Regions from separate parts of the Homo sapiens genome. Here region 1 is linked to region 2. The links come from fine-mapping of genetic effects on gene expression. A gene starts in region 2. The other region holds a variant in brackets. All regions are shown on one strand. Distances are between the middles of the regions. Region 1 overlaps GRIP1 (glutamate receptor interacting protein 1). Region 2 holds the start of GRIP1 (glutamate receptor interacting protein 1).

Evidence for each region. PIP is the estimated chance that this variant, and not a neighbour inherited with it, causes the effect.
Region 1: its variant is the best candidate, but not a certain one, in a credible set for the expression of GRIP1 in blood mononuclear cells (TOPMed, PIP 0.65).

Annotation. Positions count from the first base shown.
Region 1 is chr12:66,387,297-66,390,217 of GRCh38, forward strand. The region is part of intron 19 of GRIP1 (glutamate receptor interacting protein 1); the gene reads right to left. Among named protein-coding and RNA genes, the nearest start is that of HELB, 86 kb to the left of the region's middle. The variant C/T (reference allele first, on the strand shown) is at 1,450.
Region 2 is chr12:66,677,485-66,680,405 of GRCh38, forward strand. GRIP1 (glutamate receptor interacting protein 1) reads right to left here and starts at 1,592. Exons shown (of 25, transcript NM_001366722.1): 1 at 1,366-1,592. The coding sequence starts at 1,420.

The sequences.
Region 1 (2,921 bases), 290 kb before region 2:
GAGCAATTGCTCAATGAGGCAGGATAGCAGAGAGGAATTCTGTTTTGTGAGCAGCCTGCTGTTGCTGCTCTCTGGTAGCTGGGGAAGAATTTACTCACACATACCATGCTGGAACTGGGGTGTGTTTGGTACCTTGGAAACAGAGCCTCTAGCAGCTTCCAGTTCAGGAAGAACTCATCTCATTCAGTGGTGAGCAGTAATTGAAAAGGAATTGGCATAACATGTATACCAAGTAAATATCAGACAAATGAGAGCAAAGGCATAGAAAAACAAAGCGATAGCAGATGAAGAATACTCATGAGAAAAAGCCTGGTTCAGAGCAAATGATAAACATGACCAATCAGAAATAATCACAAAATTTAAAAAATACACAGCAAAGCCATCACCTCTATAAAACAAGAGATCAAAGCAGAAATATAAGAACTCTAGAGAAATTGGGCAAGGCAAGATGATGATGAAACATGAGCTTGTAGAGATCAGAAGAGAAACGAAAGAGAAAAATAAAATCCTGCTAATGAGTAGAGGAGGATACCATTGGGTTTCTACTCTGTGCTATCCTCTGTATGATTTGTATTCTTTAATGACATTAAATAAAGTTGGACTCTGACTGCACATGTTGGTGTCCTTTCAGTTATCATCCTTATGAAAACACAAAGAAGGAATATATCCTTATAAAGCAATGAAAATAAATAAATCATGCATCCAACTTAAGTCATAAAAGGAATAAAATTTAAAAGGAACTGAATGAAAGAGTAAAATTAAAAGTAAAATTGTACGTAAAAAAAAAAACTAGAGTAAAACTAATAAATAAATGCAAGAGTCAGTTCTCTGGGAAAAAATAAAAACCAAACAAAGAAATCAAATAAACTGTTACTAATCGAATCATGGGGAAAATAATAAAACCACAAATATACCAATTAAGGAACAATATTATGGATATAATTATAGAAACTGAGAAAATAAAAAATTAAAAAAGAGATTAATTATATAAAATACATTTGACATCTGGATGAAATAATTTCATTTTCTGAGAGAAAACAAATGATCAAAATGACCTCAAAAGGGAGAAAAATAAGATAGAAATATAGCTATCTGAGTTGAGAGTCCAAAGTTACAGAGAGCACAAGAGCTATTCAGCCCGCGAGCATGGCAGTCTATGTACCACCACCAATTTGCCAGTCTCCTCTTGTATTGACCTTTGCTAAATCCAAGTAAAGCAGTCATAGGGTTTTCTCAGAGTTAGAAGGAAGAATTAATAAGATGCAAGGAGGCCAAATGCCTAAGATTTTGATAAGGCAGAAGGGCATGAGGCATCTAATGGGCAAGACAATGGGGAGTGAAAGAAGCTGACCTGGAGGCCAACTGGAAGAAGTCAGCCACACAGTGGAACTGAGAATCAGCCCCTTGTGGGACTTCCTTAAACATATCCCTTCTTTCCCCACAAGGTTT[C/T]GTCATTCCATTCTATTTCCCTTTTCACTAACGAAGTGATAGGGCCACTGTTTGTTTATTTGTTAACTGACTGTCCCTTCAGCTGGGTAACCTCTTCCATGGGAGCAGAGACCATGTCTCCTTTGTCCAAGAGTGTATCCACATGGTCTATGGGCCTGATATTGAGCCAGTCATTACATACTGGTTGAAGGAATGAATGGAGCAAGCTTGATATTTTAGAGAAGAAGGAGAGAACAGTAAGGAATGTTGCTGCAAAGACATCGATTTCCAGCCCCAGGAGGAAGATGTGCATTATGGAGTCTCCTGGGAACAAGGCAACTATTACAGCCTTAAAGGGAACAGAGAGAATGTGCAGGGGCTTCCTGGAACAAGGCAGAGAGCCTGCTGAGAGGCTGGAGGGACAGGTTGGAGAGATAAGCTGTATCTCACAACATAATATTGAATAGGAAAAATAAAAGTGTGGTTCTATGCCTTGCTTTTATTTTTGTTTTAATTTTTTTTGAGACGTAGTCTTGTTCTATTGCCCAGGCTGGAGTGCAGTGGCATGATCTTGGCTCACTGCAATCTCCGCCTCCTGGTTCAAGCGATTCTCCTGCCTCAGCCTCCCGAGTAGCTGGGATTACAGGTGTGTGCCACCACGCCTGGCTAGTTTTTGTATTTTTAGTAGAGATGGGGTTTCGCCACGTTGCTCAGGCTGGTCTTGAACTCCTGACCTCAGGTGATTTGCCCACCTCAGCCTCCCAAAGTGCTGGGAATATAGGCCTGAGCCACTGCACCCAGCTGTGCCTTGCTTTTAAAAAGTCAACCTCACAAGCACAATCTGGAGAGATGCAGTTTAACTGAATATCACGGGTAAAGAAAAAAAAACACATTCACAAGACTTTGAGATCTCGGTAAACTGTAAGCGCAAAATGAGTGACAGATGTGCCATGACCACTAAAATTCTTATGTTGAGGTAGGTGTCATTGATCAGTTCTCCTGTCTTCAATGATGCCAGTGACCAGCTTGCTTTGCTCCGGGCTGTCGGGCTGTTGTGTGATTTTCCTTTCTGAATGTTACACTTTAACGGGTACACAGGTAAACTGAAGCACATTCGTAAGGGAGGTCCACAGGACGATACAGATACTCGTCAGTAAATTATAGAAGACACAGTTAAAGGAACTGGGGCTATTTTGCTTGGAGAAGGAAAGCCTCAACAGAGACCCAATAGCTGTCTTCGAGTATCTAAGGGGCTGTCAGGAGAAGAGGCTTTAGTCTAGTGCAGAATGACCTTGAGGGTATAGCCGGGACTATTAGGCATACTGCAGCTCAATACAAGTGAGAGCTTTAGAGTCATCAGAGCTACGTGGAGATGGGGGGCTGCCTCAGCACAAGGAACAACCTGTCACCTTGGGCATTCAAGTCCATGCAGCGTGTCTTGGCGTGCAGTGAGGCAGGACCTGGCACCAAGGGCTGCACTGGACATCAGACTA
Region 2 (2,921 bases):
AACCGTAACAGAAAGGATAGTCTCTTAGTCATGATTTATAAACAGAAATTGTACGTCTGTACCAATTGTAGAGGATAAAGTCAAAACAGAATTTACAGCCTCCTGCTAATAGCCTAATTTAAAATGTATAATCTTCCCTACATTTCCCCCAAAGTACCTTTTAAAGGACTCACTCTGCTATCCAAACAACTTGCAAATGCATTCGGTAAGTTGGTCTACAGTATTTATTCTCTTTCCTGTTATTGACTCAAGATCTATTTCTCATGATTTGCTTTGTGCTCATTCTTCTGCCAGATAAAATATTAATTGCATTTTTAGCTGCACTGCTGGTGATCAAAGAATTCTGATATGTCAAGCTAAACTGACAGAAATAGCATCCATTAACATATTTATAGGTTCAGAGCTTCTAGAACATAATTATATCCATTAATTACTCAACAGTACTCTATATTACAGGCTGAAAAAGAAAGGCATTTGCAACTAAATACTTTTACTCAGAATGAAGTTTTTTTTTAAATAATAAATTTTCTCTAAGGAAGGTTCTATCTAAAGGAAATAAGGCAAGAGAGCTCACATATCTATATGGACACAAGGCAGGATTTTTAAGGCATCCATTTACTAACTTTGCAATAGAATGCTCACAAAGTAAACGAGATGGCACATCCAGAATGGTTTCAAATAAAATAATACCTTAAATATTACAGAGAAATTTAATTACTATTTTAGAGTTCTAAGAGTGACAATCTGAAGCTGGTAATTCTTGATGATAAGATTCCGAGCAATGATTTTTACTTTCAAATAAACTTCTAGTATTACATAGGACCAAAGCATTTGGAATTACATACTTTTCTGAACATGCAATTCTAACACATAAAGAAATTAAAGCTGTCCAGGGAAAAAGCTCTTAAGATGTTGGAAAGTCATAGAACAAACAATTATTCTGTGGATCCACCAGCTGTGCGAGTCCTGAATCTGCCAGCTGCATTTAGTATATGTATCATAGAAAGGACAGTAACACACACTTGACTCCTTTTGGCCAGTTAATCAGCATGCAAAATGACGGTTTCCCACAATAACTTCAGCACCGGACCCAAACACATTCTCTTTTCAGCAAAGAATGAAGTCATTAAAAAAAAAATCACACAAGCTGCTTTCATAATTTCAGCACGAACACAACCGAGATGTAAGGACAGAAAGCAAAGCCGAGTCTACCTGTACATATGTATCTATACATATTTCACTGAGTTCTTTGTTGCCTGACAATAAATTGCAAAGGCAGTCATATTTGAAAGTAAAAACCATTAAACTGTGTTTATAGGATACTGCAACAGACTCGCTGAGGGAATAACAAGGAAAGCACGATACCTTTAGTAAGTCGCCTCAGAATTTGACAACGGCATTTAAAAGAGACAGCTATCATTCTTGCTCACTGCTTTCTGTGGCAAAGTGTACTCAAGGCTCTCTGCTCTGGTGGCTGCAGCAGCAGCAGCATATGAATTCCTTGCGCACATACCAGGAGAAAGGTAGTCCCAGTGGGGAGTGACAAAGCTTAATTCCTCTTGGCTGATGCAGAGGTCCGCTACATGTCATCTGGCAAATCTGTGTCATTCACTACTACTACCACCCCTGCCTGCCACAGCCTCCTCCCCCTTCACAATCACAATGGCTTAGAAAGTAATGCCGTTTCGATAGCAACAAAGCACCAAATTGTACAAAGCAGGGACGACACTGTGTGAGGAGCCATTCCATAAATCTAACGCTAAGCACTGAACAGTGCATTCTGTTTAAGGCAAAAGGCGATGTATCCAGTCAGTTCAGCCACCATCAGCCCCTTTCCTTCTCAGCATCAAGTCAGTGTCCTTTATATGTCTCATTTAATGGGAAATGCAAGTGAAATGCTTACACTCTTACTTTAGGAAGAAATGCATGGGTCATGTACTATGTTCTTTAAACAACAACCAAAAAAAAAAAAAAAAAAAAGGAAAGAAAAAGAGGGAGGGCCGTTTATATTTGGGATTGAGGAAAGAATCACAGTTCTGCCTATAGCGGGGAAGCAGCTCTAGGACAGAGACCTCTTTGGTACTTCCTGAACCTATGAGAGTTAAGGCAGTGTCTGTTTATAGAGGGAATACAAGAAAGGGTTAGGGCTAGGCAGACAATCAGGCAGATGGAGTCCCAGCCCCTTTAATCACCCTTCCAAAAAAGGACTTGGCTGGAAAGCAACACAGTCAAGACTGTTTCTAAAGATACCAGAAATAAAGGCAAACAAGGCCAAGTATTTCTATTTTTAATATACTTTATTATACTATTTCCCAAACAACCATCCCCCAAACCATTCTTCTCATTATGCAAATAAAACGGTCTTGCGACATAGCAGATATTTGTGAGTATCTGCTCCAATGGAGTGAAGAGCAAATTAACAAACCCTTCACAATCCATTCACAAAGTGATAAGAAGGCGGAGCACACCTCCTCATCTGCCAGCAGCAGCCTGCTCGCCATATAGTCAATACGAACTAACATTTGGTAGGGAATTTTAATCAAAATCCAGAATTCTCCCACAGGAGTTAACATAAACATTCAGGACAAAAAATTAGACAGTTGGCCAGGAAGTTTAAGAAAAAAAAAATCAATTAGTCAAAATGAAAAGATATATCACTGTCTAAACTACTTGATTAATATTTCTAGGACTTTATGAATTATTCATACAGTTTTATTCTCTACTCTTCAGGCTGTGAAAAAACTTTCAAGCTGGTTTTTAAAATAACTTCCAACATTCCAAATTTAGTGGTAAAACTTTCTTTTCTTCATTCATAAATTCAATATGAACTCAAACAATTTCAATCCACTGCTATTGAAATGCATATGCTTTGTATTTTGAGTCCAATAGAAAAATAATTTGTGTGTGAAAAACATCTGAAT